4 separate regions of the Homo sapiens genome follow, and all the other regions are reported to be linked to region 1. The links are microRNA targets in miRTarBase. Many come from high-throughput screens and were not tested one by one. Region 1 holds a microRNA gene; each other region holds the end of a gene's coding sequence.

Region 1 (4,892 bases):
ATCTCGGGTCCAGGGCCCCTGTGTTCTCCTCAGAAGCCCAGAGCACTCCATCTGTTGCCTCCTTCTGGGGTGGGCTATGGTTTCCTCACAGGCAGGCTCCATTCAGGACTCTGCTGGAGGGCTGCCGGCAGCAGGGAGTTACCTGGGCCACCCCCAGGGACCAGAGTTCCCCTCGTGGGACCTTTCCTCTCTCCCCAGTGAGTTGGAAGCATAGGCGTGGGTGGGGAGGGAGTGGGGGGATGCTTTTGGGGACGTGGACCTCTTATGCCCAGGAATCCCACTGCCTGGGCCGAGTATCTCCTTCCAGGACAGACTTCTCCCTCCCCTCTGCCCCTCAAGGGTGGGGTGTCCCCTCTAGATTCAAGCCCACCCCAACAGGAGGACCCAGTGTCCTGGAGAGGGCCCAGGAATGGAGGAATTCTACAGGCGAGCGCTTGGTGCTGCACCAGCTGAAGACGCGAGCCGCCGGTTCTGGGTCTGCCAGCCCTACTGCTCCAGGGGCTATGGCTGCAGCAGACACGCCCCATGCCCCTTTCTCCCCGAAAGCCCCTCCATTCCCACAGAGCCCACCTGTTCAAGCTAAGCCCCCACCCTGACACTCACCACCACTAACTGTTTTCTCTCTCGCAGGAGAGGGGTCTGCCCTGGGTCGAAACCATCCTTCCAGAGGGGTCTCCCTTAGAAACTCCGAGGCCAAGATTAGCCATGAGGATAAAACCCAGAGATCAGACACAGAGACCCTGGGTCAGGCCTTTGGCCACATGGCCTGGCAGCCTCACCTTGCCGAGTCACAGAGAGGCAGAGCCCCAAGCGAGCCTGGGGAGTCCTGAACCGGCCTGGGTTCCGGCCCTGCCCCATCCCCATTGCTTCTCACCACCTCTCCCCACCACTCTCCCCTCCCTGGCCCAGGGGGTCCCTGGGAGTCCGGGAAAGCGCCCTGGATCATCCAGCTCCTCCCAGGGCTGGGATGCCCACTGCCGAGAGAGCACTCAGAAGCCGCCCGTTGGCTTTGAGGACTTTTATCGCCCAAGGTCCCGAGGTCTGGGTGGGACCGCAAGGGGTTGCCCCTGTCCCCAGAGCTGCGCCCGGCCATCCCGGTGGGAGGGCTCGGCTGGAAGAAGTTGACCACCTTGTGGAGCGACTGCACTCGTGCGCTGTGGGCCTCCCAGTCCGAGAAGCTGCGGAAGTCGCCACTCTCCACCACGTACATGCGGCCGTGGTAGTTGGGCTCCTCATACAGGACCCACCTGGAGGCCAGGGGAGTGGGGATCAGGGGCTGCCAGGAAGTCCCCCGGGACTCCGGAGAGAAAAGCCTGCACAGCCTGGCCACCCAGCAACCCCTCCCGGTCGAGCGGCCCCTTCACTCTGGGCTACACGAAGGCACCCACGGTGCCTTCCCCAGTGCCCTGTGGGGTCCATGCTGGGGTGTGACATGTGTGGGGACAGGCCCAGTAATGTCCACATTTTAAAACTGACCAGTCCTGGCCGGGCATGGGGGCTCACGCCTGTAATCTCAGAATTTTGGGAGGCCGAGGCAGGCAGATCTCTTGTAGTCAGGAGTTTGAGAGCAGCCCGGCCAACGTGGTGAAACCCCGTCTCTACTAAAAATACAAAAATTAGCTGGGTGTGGTGGTGGGCACCTGTAATCCCAGCTACTTGGGAGACTGAGGCAAGATAATTGCTTGAACCAGGGAGGCGGAGGTTGCAGTGAGCCGAGATTGCGCCACTGCATTTCAGCCATCCTTGGCAAGGATGCACTCCCGCCATCACTGCACGCCCCACACACTCCTGTTCCCTGATAAGGACCACCTTGCACAGACAGTACCCCCAGCACCTGGTGGGGGGCCTGGCACAGAGGGCACCGTTCATTCAGTGAATGCCAGCAGGTTCCCACATGTGTGCCCAACACTGTGTCAGGTACCAGAGGTGCCATGGTCACACAACACGGTTCCTGCCCCCTCCTGCCCTCACGGGGCCTCCCCTGCAGAGGAAATGGGCTGTGGGGGTGCAGTTGCATGGAGGAGCCTGCAGGGCACAGAGGAGGGTTGGGGAGTCCCAAGCAGGGCCCCTTCCTGTCCTCCTCCCCTTCTGCACACCACTGGGGCAGCCACCAACAACCCAGAGAGCAGAAACAGTCAGGACAAGTCTTTACAGAGCCTGGAGGACCTCGGGCTGGTGGGGGCAGGAGAGAACACAGCTCTTCATCACCCAGGAAGCTGTGGGCCCGGCCCAGAAAAGCAGGAAGGTGCGGTGGGGAGGGAACGGGGGACCAGGAGGAAGGGACTGGAGGTCCAGGATAGTGGCCTTTGCCTGGAAAGGGGCATGTGGTCCAAGGAAGACACCTCAGGACAGCTCGGAGCAGGGGCTGGCCCAACCCTGTCCTTCCCTCACCATCTCTGAGACGAGTGAGGCTTGTCATGCCTGGTGCCTGGCACAGTCTGCTGCCTCAAGGGTTGGGGCCAGGAAGGAAGAGAGAGAGGCAGAGGGTGTGAGCCAGCCTGGAGCACCTGCTGGGGGACTCAGGGCAGGCCTGGTCCAGCCTGGACCCCACCCTCATGGCCCCCGTATCCATGCCCCTCCACACCTACAGCTTTCCAACCCCACACCTGTGCCACAGCTGGGGCCTCAGAGGCACCTCAGAGAGTCAGCTGGTCCTTTCCTACCCTGTGGTGGGCAAGAAATGCCCCAAGCCATGTCCTGGGCCACATGAGGGTTCTCACATGGACACCCCCAAAAGGAGGGGGCGGGGAACCACCCATCCTGCTGTCCCCTGTCCTGGCTGTGGCTACTGGGAGGAGGCAGACAGAGGAAAGGGCAGGGGCCTGTCCTGCCCACATCAGCACCGTGCCCTTCCCCAGGTGAGGGTAGGTGGAGGCAGAACGCCAGTGCATTTCCCTCCGAGAGCCCACCAGGACACGGGTCTGAGGGGATGGGTCATGCCTGGGCTGATGTGGGACCCAGAGGGAAGGAGTCTTGGCAGTGGGAGGTGGTGGAGGGACCCTGCCTTGCCCACTCCCCCGACCCCAGGAAAGGCCTCCTAGCAGTGTCCCCTCCGGATCGAGGGGACCTGGGGGCGTTACCTCCTTGACAAGGGCTTACATTTGTGTAAGAGTAAGAGTCTTAGGCGGCAAAGGCTGAGCTCCTGGGTCCCCCACCTGGGGTCCCGATGGCTGGCTCCTCTCAGGGACAGTGGGGATTGTGTGCCCCTCAGTCAGAGAAATGTTAGCCTCCACCTTCCCCACCTTCGTTCTCAACAAGCCCCTGAGCGTTGGGGGTGGGCCGGGGGGATTGTGTCTAGGGCCTCAGGACATCCTCCACGCAAAGGCATGACTTGGGCCTTACAAGACACAATTTAGCCAGCAAGTTTTCCAGGGCAAATTCTTGTTTTGGAATGCCACCCCTGGGCTCCAGGTGCCACCAATTTAGGGCAAAATGCAATTTCGTAAAACGGAATCCTGGAGCCAGCTAGAGTGACAGAAACAGCAGGAAGGGGGCCAACATCAGGCCACCGGGGAAAGGTGGGATGTACACAGTCCCTCCCTATCCCTGGGAACTGGTTCCAGGACCTCCCTTGGATATCAAAATCCGAGGATGCTCAAGTTCCTGATATAAAATGGCACTGTATTTGCATATAACCCATGTGTATCCTCCCATATATAGTAAGTCCTCACTTAACACCGTCAGTAAGTTCTTGGGAACCGTGGCTTTAAGCACATGATATATAACAAAGCCATTTCTCCCCTCATCAATTTTATAATGAATCCACATTGAACAAGATGACATATTTGAGGACCTGCCATACATTGTTTCACTTAAAGTCACAGTTTCCAAGAACCTATCCACAATGTTAAGTGAGGACTTACTGGACTCGAAATCATCTCCAGATTACTTATGATACCTAATCCAACATAAACGCTATGTAAATAGTTGTACAGTATCTTTCAGGGAATAATGTACATATTCAGCATAGACACAATTGTGGGGGGATATTTTCGCTGTGCGGTTGGAGCCCATGGACATGGGGTACCACCTGTGCCCAGCTCTGCCTCGGCCCAGTCTCTGTCTCCCTGCAGTCCCTCTGCCCCCTGCATCCCCTCCGAAGCTCCCTGGCCTTGAACCTCTGTAGTATAGACGGCAAATTGTTCCTCAATTGCTTCGATAGGCGCCAGAACCATGCACAGCCAGCTGGAACCTGTGTGAGGGGCTCTTGGCCTGAGGGGAGGGGACTGAGGCCTGGGAAAGCGGCTAGCTCTGGAACAGGGACAGACACAGGCTTGGCTGCAGTCTCAGCTGTGCCACTCCCACGGGGCGGCCGGGCAGTCAGCCTTCTGAGTCTCAGCTTGCCCTTTGTAGAACGGGGGCGATAATATCTACCTGACCTAGAGGTGTGGGCTGGACAATGAAAATACATGGCCAACTTGAAGGTGCTCAGAGGATAGTTGCAAAAGGGGAGTGTGCGGGAGGGCAGGAGGGGGCACACAGGCTGCCCTTGGTTGACCAGGAGGAAACCCAAGTGTGGGGCAGACAAACCCATCTGGGCCTGGGCAAAATTCCCCCAGCTACTTTCTGTCCAGGAGTGAGCCACCCCGAAGTCCATCTCCTCCCAGAGGCCAGGGTGGTGGGGGTTTGCAGAGAGGCCCGGTTCAGGGGTCAGCTCTGCGGGGTAGGCGCGGGGGCAGGGTGGGCTGGTCCACCCTTCTCAGAGCAAGTGAGCCCACTGTGGCTTTTCCAGCCCATAAGGCCCTGGAGGACCCCTTGGTAAGCAGGTGTCCCCCGGTTCAAGAAAACCAAAGGCGGCCCCTTGTATCAGATCAATCGCAGAGAACCGTGCAACTTTCAAGGTACTCTCCTACCTCTGCTCCTGGACTGAGGCCCTAGAGGGAAGGTCTCAG
Region 2 (4,892 bases), not on the chromosome of region 1:
TTTTGTTAGTCTGGGAAATAAGCACCTCAGTGGCCCAAAGACAAGGCCTGAAATTTCCATGAAAAGAAACTGGGATCTATTCATCTGTTCTGTTGAGACCCCATAGTTCCATACCATAGAAATGGGCACAGTGGGTTTTGGGGGGAGAGTTGTAAGTGTAAGCTGTCTGTTCCTCTGTTTACTGAGAATTGTGGGTGTCCACTGAGGCAGTTCATATTTGGCAGATGATTGAGTCCTGATTTCTCAGGGCCGGCAGACTCTGGTGTTACTAATCTTGTGGAAAAGTCAACCCATTGAGAAGATTTTATGCAGAAGTTTTAAATGCACATTGATCATAATTTGAATATGTCACAGTCTTTGTTTTTCTTTTCAGCCAATCCTGAGGCAAAAGAAACATTTTAATTCACTGCACATTCCAAAAGCCTTGCAGAAGGCCCTGCCATTTAAGAACAAGCCCAAGACCCAAGCAAAGGCAGGCAAGGTGCCAAAGGACAGGCGGAGACCGGCCGTCATACGCGAGCCTCATGAAAGAAAGGTACTGTTGCCCATGCTGTACTGCACGCTGCGTTTAGATAGGAAAAGAACACTCTCAATAGCACACTTCCTGTTTCTACTGTAGTCTCAGTTATTCAGGGCACTGGAACTAAAGTCAGAGGAAGAGCCAGAGTCCATTTCCCTTTCTTTGCCTGGTCCTGCTCTGCCCTGTGCTTTTCATGGGGGATAACAGGTACATGGCTGGGGAACCCTTCTGTCTCGGTTAGCTGCACACAGTGTCCACAGAATGATGAACAGAGGTGGTAAAGGTAAAATGGGATCACACCTGTGTCTCCATGCCAACAATGACTTCCTAGCACAGGATGCATTTTCATGCAGTTAATATTCATTTGGATCGTGGGTTGCCTCTAGTCTTAGTGCTTAGGATGCGAGTGTGTGGTGTCTGAGAGCATTCTGATACTCACCGGCTTTTGTCCTTGTCAGATCCTTGCACTGCTGGATGCTCTGAGTACGGTGCATAGTCAGAAGATGAAGAAGGCCAAGGAGCAGCGGCACCTGCACAATAAAGAGCACTTCAGAGCCAAGCAGAAGGAGGAGGAGGAGAAGCTGAAGCGGCAGAAGGACCTCAGGAAGAAGCTCTTCAGAATTCAGGGGCAGAAGGAAAGAAGAAACCAGAAGTCCAGTTTGAAGGGGGCTGAGGGCCAATTGCAGTGAGCCTTTGGACTGGAGGGACTGTCCCTGGATCTGCGGAGGTAGACAGTTTCAAACATCACAGTTTGAATGCCTGTGAATGACAAGTCAGTGGGAAAGAGCTCAAGAGATGTCTCTACTCAAACTGTGCCTGCAGGAGGAGGAACAGAGAAGCCTGGGCTGCTGGGACTGGGTTCATTCTCATGACTTGGGGCTGTCGAGATTTAAAGTGATGTAAGCTGTGGTTATGTGGATTCTCTTACTTTCCTCTGCCTGCCTCAGTTTAATTATTTTGTCCTACAGAAATATCATTAAAATATTTTTTTGTTACTTTTGGCTTAGTAGTTTTCATTAGGGATGAATGCCTGACAATTCTTTGTGGATAATTATTTATACTACCACCTTCATGAGGAGTCTTCCAGAAGAGAAAGAAATATTCACTTGAACTCTGAGCTCCCATGGAAGATTTTAGAGAATAGTGTGTAGTGTTTTTGTTTTGTTTTTTGTTTGAGTGACACACAAACCTAGATGGTACAGCCTACTGTGCACCCAGGATCTATGGGCTCCTTTGATCACTGGCCCTTGTGGACATTTTCTATCTTATTTCATATGTTCTGCACATTAGTATAGTGACAAGGTAACAGTAAGTACTTTTTTAAAGCTTTAGACTTAGGAGATTATTGTCTCAGGTGCAGAGACCAAGGAAATCGTATGTATCAGTGAGATAGGCTTCCCGTATTATGCTCATGCGTTATACCTGCCTAGCTACATTGCCTTTTTTTAAATTAAACATTATGTTGAAGTAATCATACTATTACATAGGCGATGTATGTATTTTATGATTGTATGTTGATATAGTTATGGGGAATCTATTCCTATACGATGTAATCATAGATTCACATATAGTTGTATATTTTGCCCAATTTCTCTCAGTGGTAATGTTTCACACATATAACAATCAGGATGTTGACATCAATACAGCCCGCTGATTTTATTCACATTTCCCCAGCTTTACTTTCCCCAACGTATACTCCTCCATGTATGCATGGGTGTGTAGAAATATGGAACGCAGCTGGGCACAGTGACTCACGCCTGTAATCCCAGCACTTTGGGATGCTAAGGCAGGAGGATCACTTGAGCCCAGGAATTTGAGACCAACTTGGGCAACATGGCAAAACCTCATCGCTACAAAAAATAAAAAATTCGCCAGGTGTGGTGGGTGCACACCTGTAGTTCCAGCTGCTTGGGAGGCTGAGGTAGGAGGATCACTTGAGCTTGGGAGGTTGAGGCTGCAGTGAGCCATGATAGCACCACTGCACTCCAGCCTGGGCGACAGGGCAAGACCCTGTTTCAAAAAAAAAAAATTATACATATATGTATGTAGAACACTTCATGAATTTGTGTGTCATCTGTGCATGGGGCCCATGCTGACCTCTGTGTTGTGCCAGTTATAGTATGTGTGCTGCTGATATGAGTGCCACATTGCCTTTACAACATCATAGGGGCCAAAGAGGGTTGGCAGGATTATGAGCAGTTGGCCTAGTCTGAGAGGCTCTCTAAAAGCCTAAAGTCTGTAGGCAGGTGCTCAGCTTTGTATCTCCATAAGAAGGGAAGAGGATGTGAGGATCCTGTCAGGGCTAGGTCCACCTGGGAAGTGACAATTGGAACACTCCCAGACCTCTCTGGGCAACTCTGGGTGTACATTTTCCTCTGTTCCTCAAGAGCTATTATGAATTTCATCATCCATTATGCTGATAGGCCTGGGGACTGACACATAGTAAGCCCATAACAATTATAATTTAAAACTAATTTGTTATATAGCATAATTGATATATTTTAAAATGCAAAACTATAATTCAACTAAAATATACAAGGCACTCAAGTCATACCATGTTTTAAGTAGCTTACAAGGTGATCAGCAAGTGTCTTATACAACAAGCAAATTTGTTCAAAGAGAAGCATTGCAAATAAGTATTTATAATTGTATAGTTTTATATTTTAGCCAGAAGAGTGGAATCCTTTAGCAATGGGGGAAATAAAAGAATGTTTAATTACAGTTGCAGATAATTGCCTTTTCCAAAGACAATGTATGTAGGCAGAACTCATACCTGTTAATATTAAAAATCTTGGTTTATCATATTTGGAGAACAAGGGAAATAAAAAGTTTGCATATTAAGATTATTTAAACTAAAGTTAAGGAATCTCTAATGTCTGAAAGAAACAATAAATAGCATTTTTCATGTAGAATTTTTATTGGTGAAGGTTCCACCTGGCCAGGTTAGTAAAATACAGTCACACATCAGTTAAGGATGGGGATATATTCTGAGAAATGTATCATTAGGCAATTTTGTCATTGTGTAAACATCATAGAGTGACACACAAACCTAGATGGTACAGCCTACTGTGCACCTGGGCTCTATGGTATGGCCTGTTGCTCCTAGGCTACAAACCTGGGCAGCATGTGACTGTACTGACTACTGTAGGCAGTTGTAACACAGTGGTAAACATTTGTGTATCGAAACATAGAAAAGGCGTAGCAAAAATACAGTATTGTGGAACCACTGCCATATACGTGGTCCATCCTTGACTGAACATCATGCGGCATGTGGCTGTATGTATACACATAGTTTTTGCTGTGAGTTTGCATCCATCTCATAGGAAGACATATATCAAAATAAGGACCAGACTGGAGAGTGTGTAAATTACTTTTCAATACTAATGGCTTATTAATTTGATATTGTCAGCAAGTATGTTGCAAAAACAAATTCCACCAGAATGTGAGTTCCATGAGAGCAGGAACTGGGTTGTTCACCTTGTTGGCACTTGGAGTAGAGCCACTGAGCTTCGTGCTGCATAAAATTGCTTGGAAGAAAGAAGGGAGGGCATTCCAGGTAACTGAAGCATTGCTATGCAAAGTAAGCATTTGCCCTCTGAAATATTTTAACAATGTTTATAGAAACCTTTCTCAATTGTATTAAACTTTGTAAATTGTAAAAATTATTCTGTTATACCTTTTCTATTTACTAGGCACAGGCAGCCATAGGTGCTAGGTATGTTTTGAAAACATATTGAACCTACAGTGTACATATCATTCCATGCCATTAAATATTCTTATTTAATCATAGATGTGTTCAGGTGTGTTTGGTTTCCTATTTGTGGATGTACTAGATTGTTTTCTTTTTTTAACAAAACCTGTGAACTTGCTTTAAGTATTATCATTTGGTGACATGCCCGCCATTTCAGAAATAAATGTTTGAGCAAAGAGGAAAGCCACCGGGTCTGATTCAGCTCTCTGGAGGCTCCAGAGCTTACCTCGCTGATGGGAAAAAGAGCATCGATTTAATTGCCCTTGGTACCGACTTCTAGTATCTAGTATTTTGCCAGACTCAGGTATTTCTTAAAGCCATTATTCAGAGTCTTCAGCAAGGACATTGTATTTTACTTGTGTCTCCTTAGTTTTACCTAGTTTATTTCATGGTTTTAAAGTATTGTACATTTTTATAATCCTTTAACAAGACAAAAGGTTGAGATGTTGGACATTTAAATGCCAAAGGTGTTTTATTATGAGACTTAGCATTTCATATTTGGGGATGGTACCTTATCGAAAATCAGATAAACTTTGGTTGGATGGGTATTTGGAGGAATCTTTTAAGTCTTTTCTTAAGCAAAGTTTGGACACTCTAAAATAAGGTTGCCAACTGGCATGT
Region 3 (4,892 bases), not on the chromosome of region 1:
TTTGTGGATGGAGATGAGTACTACAAAATTGACCAATTTAGTATGTCAGGGAATGAAGAGGTTCCCCGGTCAATGTTACAGCCTGGTTCCTGGAAAAAGAGCCTGCAAGCGTGCATTGCTAATTCCCATTCACACACTGACTTGGCGCAATTTGCTGTGCTGTTGTATGCAATGATCTGCATCAATGACACTGGCCAAGGGAGAAGCAGAAACAGAAATGAGGACATGTAACTTTCAAGAAAGGAAGAGTATCATTAAAATGAAAATTTCTCTGTTGCAAACATCATAGAGAAAATGTGCAATCCCAGGCCAATAAGCAAATCTTTGCCCAAAATAAACATATTTCTTCTGCTACATCTCACTGCGGCCCTTAGAAAAACCGTACCAATGACTTATCTTACTGGAGGTGTTAATACCACCAACATATTTTATTCCTTCCTTCAGTTTTTCCAGTTTCTTTACCAGCAGTATCTGAACTTTTCATTTAGGAAACACCATTCTTCATGGTGCTTATGAAAACAGGAGGTGCCTGAAGGAGGCTGAGAAGAGGTTTGCAGCTTCTACTGTCCTTGATAGGGGAGGGGAGGGGAGACTGCATGCCATCTGATATTCAATTCCTCAACCATACTGGCAATTTGTTTTGGCTAGAACATTTAAAAGTGTAATAGCTCCACTGGGTTTCCTTATTCCACTTCTCAGATTTCAGAAAATCTTTATAATTCCTGAGTAGTTGCAGTGAGTGTGTAGAAAGACACCATCATCAACATAAGGATTCAAAAGGCAACTGTTGGGCAGTAGGACCATCACCTATGACCTCTGGGCCCCCACCGTCATCATAAACATCCACTTCTGCTTGGCCACACTTTTTCTTATTTCTTTTTCCCCAGTAAGCTGCCACTTATTGAGATAAAAGCCATACAGCACACCTCCTAACCTGGTTTTTGATACTTCATGGGCCTGATGCTTTTTTTTTTGAAACGGAGTCTCACTGTCGCCCAGGCTGGAGTGCAGTGGTGCTATCTCGGCTAGCTGCAAGCTCCACCTCCTGGGTTCACGCCATTCTCCTGCCTCAGCCTCCCGAGTAGCTGGGACTACAGGCGCCCACCACCACGCCCGGCTAATTTTTTGTATTTTTAGTAGAGATGGGGTTTCACCGTGTTAGCCAGGATGGTCTCAATCTCCTGACCTCGTGATCCGCCCCCGCTTGGCCTCCCAAAGTGCTGGGATTATAGGCATGAGCCACCACGCCCGGCCCGGGCCTGATGCTTTTTACCTAACGTGTCTGTAGTGTAATTTATGATGTACTTTGTGTAATTTATGTAACTTATGATATTGTGTGCTCTGATGCTGTCAATTGCTCATGCAAGAATCTGAACTACTGTCAAACTGTGTCCTCAGATTTAATGAATATTGTCTAAGAGGAGACAAAGTTGTTTGTAAGTTAAGGGTTCTTAGAGTTACTACTAAGTCAGGTGTGTCTGGTTAGATGCAGCATAGCAAACTGGTTACTCTCCTTTCTAGTTCAGGGAGGGCTATGCCTAGAACAGCCACTTAAAGCCTGCTGGCAGGATGTGCTTAAGCTGCCAAATGGCATCCCGATCACCTCCTCTCCAGGAAAAGTTCAGATCCTCCTGCTACACTGAACACAAGCTCAACAGCATTTTAGAGGGATCATTTTCAAGGCCTCCAGATTATTTTAGATGAACTTCCTTGAACAAATTGTCATTGACCTTTACTGAGCATCAATTTGAGTTAAAAATGAAGGCTGTGTCAGCAACGTGGTACATTGGTGGACTTGGGAGGGGGCATCCCAGATACATGATGCAGGGTTCAGAATAGGTGAGAATAATGAAGATTCTGCCATGGTGTCTTACAACACTAACATCATACATCGACTAGTGTGACAAAACCACTAGGTTTCCCCAACCGAGGCAGGCAAACCTTGCTTTGTAGAAATAGGTATTTTACTGCAAAGTTTTAGTCTGTTCACTAGGATGAAATCCAAAGTGGGCTGTATTTGTCTAACTCTCAAATTAAGTGTTCTCACTCATTATTCTTCAGCACTGGTTCCTGAAGGGTTACGTGGCCACAGTGGCAGCCCTGCTTACCTTCACTGATTTCTCGTAAGCATCCTACTTACAGACCAAAGTGGACTGCAATGAGTACACCTCAAACCTCCCGCTGCTCTCACCATCAAGCCTATAAGGATTGAGACTTCTGCTGGCCCCACATAACTCAAAAGAGCTGAATTATATGGCATGGGTAAAACTGGCACTTTTCTTGTGCATGATAACACTAGAAGGAGCATACAATGGTTATAAGTGGAATCAGTTTTTAATTGATCCGTTCTTTTGGTTGTCTTCAGAGTTAAGTGAAAATGAAGAGAAACTATGTAAGAAAGCAGCATAAAAAGCTTCTTGCTCACAAGCAACTTCAAGCCTTTTTAGTCATGCATGTTCCTTCTCGGCTTTTCTGTTTTGCTTGTCTCGTTCCTTCATTGTGAATTTTAAAAATCCAACCATGTTACCATATTCCTTTCAGTTGCACCAGTAGAAAAGGCGGTTAGCACCTGCATGAATATGGCTTCTGTGACTTGATTTGATCCTGACTGCAGTCTTCATTCTCGAAGCTGACATTAGATTAGGATATGGTGCTGCTTTCATTACTGGATCTATTATAGAAGCATTCCTGAGGGGCTGCTGGCTGGCAGGCATATCCTGGGAAGATGCTCAGGCACCTGGCAAGTCCAGGGGTTCTGGAAAGATGCTGGGGCAAGGGGCAGGCCACATGTGGAGGCTGGATCAGGAAGGAATTTAAGATTTCTGCTCATCTCTGGACTGTCCTCCACCAATTGGGGGGAGAAAGCTCGGCCTCTTCAAGGCCTAAAAATGAGTCTTTGATCATATTGTCCATTCATCTCCAGTCCTCTTTCTTCACCCCTCACAAGATTTCAGAGACGTGGCTTAAAGACAAAAGTGTCAGAGAGGTCAAAGGTGGTTTCCTTATGTGACTCAAGAGCCAGGGTCAGAAAGAGCTGCCTGTGAACAATATTCCACTTGGAAGTTTTCTATTAATGTAATTACTTTCATTTTGATGTAAGGAACCTTTTTTCTGCCCTTCAGTTTTTTTGACATTAAAGAGTCCTGCTTCATCCTACTTCACATGCCTATCAGCCAAGGTCATGAGCAGGTGCTGTGAGTTGCATTTGCTCTCCTGTCTGGAAACTGCCTCCTGGGGATGGGGGTCGTCCAGCTGCACAGTCACAGCACATAACGTAGAACTCGGCTGCGTATCAACACAACATTGCCCATTCATGAACGGTCCAAAATGTAAAAGGTGCTCTGCCGCTGGGTCTCTTGTCCAAGCACACCCAAGGCTGTGCTTGCTCAGGTATTACATTTTCTCCTGGGAGTTGGGGTGCAGAATCTCTGCTGGCCCAGAAAAACCACAAAGGACCGATGTAAAAACAAGAATGGGCCTCACTTAACAACTGATGTCAACTCCTTGCATGGTAACTTGTTCTCCAGGATGAAGTTTATGGCTATTTGTCTCCCTCTCTCCACCCAGGTATGATTCTGTTTTTTCTCCTTTTCATCACGTAAACCATAACAACAAAAAATCATTTTTTTAGTCTGGATAATACATGTTCTTGGACCTCTTCAAGAATAGTTTTGGTGAGTTGCAACATTATTGGAGAGAAAGATGCTGCAGGATTTTGCTGCAACAGGATCAAAACTAAGACCAATAATCAAAACAGCAGTGTGTAACGACAAAGACTTGAACTCTCCCAAGGCAACTGTCCTCAATGATCTTTTCTCTCTTCTGTGACAATGTGACATATATCAAGCTTTGGTTATAAAGCTGGAAATCTCAGCTTTTAAAAAAATTTTGGAAACATTTTGGTATTTCTTCTGCTCTTAGAGTGGACTTTGGGCTTCCACAAGAAACAGTCATCAAATATTTCTGCAATGTTCCCTTAAATAGTTTTCCATTGTTCCTGCGGCTTAATGAGGGACTTCTTAAAGAAGGCATGGGGCACTCTCTGCAGATGACCTCAGAAAGAGATGAGCAAAAACAAACATTTAGTGACACATCTTTCAAGAACGTCCTGCAACCCTGTGGTCACAAAGAGTATGCGTGCAAGGTCCTCCACCTCCAGTGCCATCATTTCCATGTGTCTTCATCTTAGTTAGTGGTCACACTGGCTTCCTTCTGACGCAGTCTTTCTTTCTGTTAAGGAAAAAAAAATGAATGTATCATTTTCTTTCATCTTTCTCAAGTTTTGATACATTTCTCAAATTTTGGTCTAGAATGCTGAGTTTCCGGAATTGTGCCAAATGGCCTAGAAATGAGAGTACCTCTACTGCTTTCCCTAAGCTCTTAGTTATCTGCCCCTCCCTACCTATCACCCTTACTCCCCAGAAAAACAAACAAGAAATCAATAACCAGCCAATCTACCAACTACATCCATCTAAAACACGGGCCTTTACCATGCCAGGGTGGTCTTTTCTGTTCTCTTCTTTTGTGACAAAGACCCTAACTTTGTAGTGTTACTCAAGGACCCCTTCCGTCCCTACCTTTGGCTCATTGATGGAATTAGAGAATGCCCAAGAAGATATGAAAAAAAAAATTACTATTTCCAATGATCAACTTGGCAGAACTCAACAAAAGCCATGCAAAATGGGAGATGACCAGATTTAGTCTCTGCAGAATGGCAGAAGTTCCCGATTTGCCATGGATGTTATGCTCTTCATTCTCCGAGCTTCCTCCTCAGAGACTGCCTTCTAAAGGGAAGGACATGGACATCTGCTGGGAAGACGTAAGAATACACAGGAGCACACTACACAGAAACATGGACCCCCATGGTATCTGTGACACTAGGGAAGCACACA
Region 4 (4,892 bases), not on the chromosome of region 1:
CTCTCAGTCTAGAATAGTAGCTGTTAGTAGAAGATGGTTTAGAATCCTGGAGATTGTTTGCCTCCTGACTTCAATGCAGTGCTGAAGTCTTCTTCCATAGAAATCCTCTTCAACCACTCTCTGGCACCTCTATAACTCTGTCCTTGAACGCTGCTTTAGTTGAGTCTCAACCCTGAATCCAGAGTGCCTAGTTGAGAAAATTGGCTTTCCCACTTATAACGTGTATGATTTGGGGCAGGTTAATTAACCTTTTCCTGCCTCAGTTTCTGCATCAGTAAAATGGAAATAATAATTACACATATTTATTGTTTAGAACAGTGTCCATCTGGAACATGGCAAAAGTTCAGTAAGTTATTGCTTTTCTTCACAGCACTTACTACATTTTATTACATACTGGTCTTGTCTTCTACATTAGAAGTAAGCTCCATTAGGGCAGGACTTTGTATTACTGAGGACTTTATCCCTAGCTCCTAGTGCAGTGTATTTAGTATAAAGGCCTTCAGTATTTGTTATGAGTTAATTTACTGAATGTTTAAAACGCCATAAATTGCTATAACAGAAGAAAAGAATTATAATTAAAAATAAAACACAGGCCGGGCACGGTGGCTGATGCCTGTAATCCCACACTTTGGGAGGCCGAGGTGGGCGGATGGATCACAAGGTCGAGGTCGAGACCATCCTGGCCAACATGGTGAAACTCTGTCTCTACTAAAAAAAAAATACAAAAATTAGCTGGGCGTAGTGGCGTGCACCTGTAGTCCCAGCTACTCAGGAGGCTGAGGCAGGAGAATCGTTTGAACCCAGGAGGTGGAGGTTACAGTGAGCCAGATTGCACCACTGCACTCAAGCCTGGCGACAGAGCGAGACTCTAAAAACTAATAAATAAAAACATAAATAAAACACAAAAAGCCATAAATGATTGTATTATTTTCTTTCTTTTTTTTTTTTTTTTGAGACGGAGTCTCACTCTGTCACCCAGGCTGGAGTGCAGTGGCACGATCTCGGCTCACTGCAACCTCCGCCTCCCGGGTTCACACCATTCTCCTGCCTCAGCCTCCCGAGGAGCTGGGACTACAGGCGCCCGCCACCACGCCCCGCTAATTTTTTGTATTTTTAGTAGAGATGGGGTTTCACCGTGTTAGCCAGGATGGCTATAATCCTCATACTTTGGGAAGAAGAGGTGGGAGGATCACTTGAGCCCAGGAGTTCCGAGACTTGCATGGGCAACATGGTGAGACCCTGTCTCTACAAACAATAAATTAGCTGGGCATGGTAATGTGCACCTGCAGTCCTACCTACTGGAGAGGCTGAGGTGGGAGGATTGCTTGAGCTCAGGAGTTCAAGGCTGCAGTGAGCAATGATCATGTCATTGCACTCCAGCCTGGGCAACAGAGTGAGACCTTGTCTCTGAAAAAAAAATCCAAACTCCCCTCCCTCAAAACAGGCTTCTATTTTGGGCATTATTTTTAACTTATTTATATGTTAAACATCTAATTAATCTCTTGAGATGCTAATTTATAGAAAAAAAGAGACAAGTTAATGACGGCTACCTTTGAAGTCAGGCTTAAAAAGTAACAATTCTTCGTATTTAGCCTTTTTCTTTTTTGTTTTTGAGATGGAGTCTTGCTCTGTCACCCAGGCTAGAGTGCAGTGGTGCTATCTCGGCTGCCTGCCAGCTCCGCCTCCCAGGTTAACGCCATTCTCCTGCCTTAGCCTGCCGAGTAGCTGGGACTACAGGCGCCTGCCACCACATCTGGCTAATTTTTTGCATTTTTAGTAGAGACAGGGTTTCACCATGTTAGCCAGGATGGTCTCGATCTCCTGACCTCGTGATCCGCCCACCTCGGCCTCCCAAAGTGCTGGGATTACAGGCGTGAGCCACCGCACCCGGCCTATTTAGCCTTTTTCAACTTCCACTGCATTTTCACATACATTATACCTTTTGTTCCCATATCCTGTGCTGTAAATTTGAGCAGGTTTTATATAGTTTATATATGAGGAAAAAAAAAAGATACCTCAGAAAGGCTGATTTGCCTAAAGTTGCATGAATTTTTTTTTTTTTTTTGAGATAAAATCTTTCTGTGTCACCCAGGCTGGAGAGCAGTGGTGCCATCATGGCTCACTGCAGCCTTGGCCTCCTAGGTTCAAGCAATCCTCCTGCCTCAGCCTCCCAAGAGGTATGTGCCACCATGCCCCAGCTAATTTTTAAAAATTTTTGTAGAGATGGAATCTTGCTATGTTGCTCAGGCTGTTCTCAAACTCCTGGGCTCAAGCTATCCTTTTGCTTTAGCCTCCCAAAGTGCCAGGATTTCAGGCAAGAGACACTGCACCTGGCCTAGTTGCATGATTTGCATGAGCTGAAATACAGTACCCTGGTGCTTTCAATATTAGAGTTTCCATACTTTATAATTGTACCTCCCCAACCTTCAGCCCCTGCTCTCTCTCACTCTAATATCTCACAATCACATTAATTTTTTTGCTGTTTATATGTCTTCTAAGGGAAATGACAATTTTAACTTTGGTGTAATATTTATTGCACCTATCTACTTAATTTTTTAATGTATAAAAATTGCATTAAAACATCAATATGCAATTATTTTCCCACCACTCAAAAATTTTAATATGTATTGAAGATTTTGGCCAAAAAATATGCAAAAGACAAGGAATATAAAAATAACTTACAACAAATTTCTAAAACCCCTCATATATTAAAATTGGTAAGACAAAAATATGATTTATAATACATGTTTGCCATTGTGGTATATATAAGAAAATAGTACTCATACTAAATTCAATCTACTTATCAAAATTCTTAATATAAGAATGAAAATATTCAGATGTTATAAATAGAAAGACAGGTATTAAAAAGTTTCTTTTGGACAACATTCTTTGGTGCTGATAAAACTGCATGTTATTGTCTATGGTAAAGTCTTTTCAGACTTTACTACATATCTAGTTACAACTGGAAATGAAAAAAATATAAATTAGATATGACTATAGAAAGTAGTTATAGGGTATTTTGATTTCATGGTGCTCAAATGTTTATGAACAAGTTTTACTTATTAAACTTTGAAATAACTACCTATTCTTTGATATTTCTTATATATCTATATGTTCCAGAAATTAGAAAAAAGTTACCTACATAGGCAGAGAATTCAACTGTGAGTTGACAATTATTTACGATTCTCTTAACTGGCTGTTTCACAACGTTATGGAGCTAAGAAAGGATGAAAGCTTACCACTGCTTGGATACCAGCTTGATAAGCAGCTTGGAATGTCAAATATATAACAAGAAAGGAAATATTCTACTTTAAAGGAACATGGTAAGTAAATGAATAACATGGACACAACTTAGTATAAGTTCTTTACCCTAATAAATTAATTATTCATTTGCAAATATTACCAAAAGTAAAAAAAATTTATTTTATAGAGTGGTTGATTTTTGTAATACATCAAAAACTGTGATGTTATACACTTCCCTATTCTCATTGCTTATCTCATATCAGTGGTTGAAGTTTCTCCCAAATAATTTAGTTTACATTTAAAGTGGCAATACAGATTTTACTTAATGGACTTAAGTTATAATTAGAAACCAGTTTTATATACAGAAAATCCATAAATATAGAACTTTTATTCCTATTTTATCTTTAGGCTATGCAAAAAATGGACTAAAAATTTTTCATTTGGGTCTTTGTAATAAACATGTAAATACATATTTACAATGGAGATGCTTCCTGATAGAAAGTAAACAGAAGTAATTTTGGTCTTCACTAGAATCCATCATATCTATTTTTGAAGATGATGTAATACATCATGTTTACTCAAAATTTGATTCCTTTTATACACATAATTTAAATAATTACTCCACTTTTACCATTAATGTTTCATTCTGTATTTAAATTTCCTTCAAGAAAGATTCCTTGATCCAGTAGTAGGGAACTCTGTTTCTGTACAGTTAATGTGTAATTTTTATCCTTCTGGCAATATTACAAATACTGAGTCATTTAATCTTCATTGTTTATTCTCCAGGGGTAATTCTTGAGTTATCTCACATGATGTAAGTACCATCTTTGCAGTATTTCATGGATTCCATTTGTTTTGTCATAGCCAGAACATCATGAAATCCAGTACTTAGGCCAGACATATGTTGAAAGTATGCCTCCTTTTCCACTTGAATTGTTAAATTGTTTACTCCAGCATCTTTAAGTATTCCTGTAACCTGTTATAAAAATCCAGATATTTTGAAGCATTTAGAGTAATGCATTTAGTACACACGTCTTAATATGCTGTACATAGTTGATACGGGTTGAGTATCTTTAATCTGAAAATACGAAATCTGAGACGCTCTAAAATCTGAAACTTTTTGAGTGCCAAGATGGTGTTAAAAGGAAATGCTCATTGGAGCATTTTGGATTTGGATTTTCAGATTAGGGATGCTCAACTGGTAAGCGTAATGCGAGTATTAAAAAAAATAAAATCGCAAATCGAAAACACTTCTGGTTCCAAGCATTTTAGATAAGGAATATTAAACCTGTGTCACATTTTTAAAATAGTTACAGGCCAGGCACAGTGGCCCAGGGAGGCTGAGGCAGGAGGATCGCTTGAGCCCAGGAGTTTGAGACCAGCCTGGGCAACATAGTGAGATCTTGTCTCTAAAATGAATGAGTAAACAAACAAACAAACAGTTACAGTAGTCCAAGATAAATCTTCGAAGTAATATTCATCATTTAGTTAGTTAAAATATTAGACTCTTTTAGGTCAGTAAATTACTGATTTGACATTCACAGTAGAAAAGGAAAACAGCCATTGTTTCCAATTTGGCACATCTAGAACAGGGCTTTAGTAACTATTCTGACCTCTATCTCCAAACATAGCATATACCCTGCCAAGTT

What was found. Region 1 holds the annotated microRNA hsa-miR-3907 (AGGUGCUCCAGGCUGGCUCACA, at 2,488-2,509, opposite strand). A microRNA usually pairs through its seed, bases 2 to 8, with sites in the 3' UTR of a target mRNA and lowers its output. Matches are read on the target gene's strand: a 7mer-m8 pairs with bases 2 to 8, a 7mer-A1 pairs with bases 2 to 7 and ends in A, and an 8mer does both.
Region 2: miRTarBase lists BMS1 as a target of hsa-miR-3907. Seed matches in the 3' UTR shown: 7mer-A1 at 2,492-2,498.
Region 3: miRTarBase lists FMN1 as a target of hsa-miR-3907. Seed matches in the 3' UTR shown: 7mer-m8 at 3,336-3,342, 7mer-A1 at 2,649-2,655, 7mer-A1 at 1,012-1,018 and 7mer-A1 at 505-511.
Region 4: the mRNA of SLC30A5 is a reported target of hsa-miR-3907. Seed matches in the 3' UTR shown: 8mer at 3,029-3,036 and 7mer-A1 at 2,891-2,897.

The regions. Positions count from the first base shown.
Region 1 is chr7:151,431,039-151,435,930 of GRCh38, forward strand. It overlaps MIR3907 (microRNA 3907), which reads right to left and starts at 2,601; the gene lies at 2,451-2,601. All of the region lies in intron 3 of CRYGN (crystallin gamma N), which reads right to left. LOC124901780 reads right to left here. Exons shown (of 1, transcript XM_047421163.1): 1 at 1,254-4,892. The coding sequence starts at 2,419. The coding sequence ends at 1,514. RefSeq lists enhancers at 1,781-1,880, 2,151-2,240.
Region 2 is chr10:42,829,888-42,834,779 of GRCh38, forward strand. It overlaps BMS1 (BMS1 ribosome biogenesis factor), which reads left to right. Exons shown (of 23, transcript NM_014753.4): 22 at 374-535; 23 at 979-4,892. The coding sequence ends at 1,209. It also overlaps the pseudogene RNU6-885P. Among named protein-coding and RNA genes, the nearest start is that of LINC02623, 39 kb to the right of the region's middle.
Region 3 is chr15:32,770,125-32,775,016 of GRCh38, forward strand. It overlaps FMN1 (formin 1), which reads right to left. Exons shown (of 21, transcript NM_001277313.2): 21 at 1-4,230. The coding sequence ends at 4,186. Among named protein-coding and RNA genes, the nearest start is that of GREM1-AS1, 54 kb to the left of the region's middle. RefSeq lists an enhancer at 3,444-4,643.
Region 4 is chr5:69,128,774-69,133,665 of GRCh38, reverse strand. SLC30A5 (solute carrier family 30 member 5) reads right to left here. Exons shown (of 16, transcript NM_022902.5): 16 at 2,597-4,219. The coding sequence ends at 4,049. Among named protein-coding and RNA genes, the nearest start is that of SNORA50D, 30 kb to the left of the region's middle.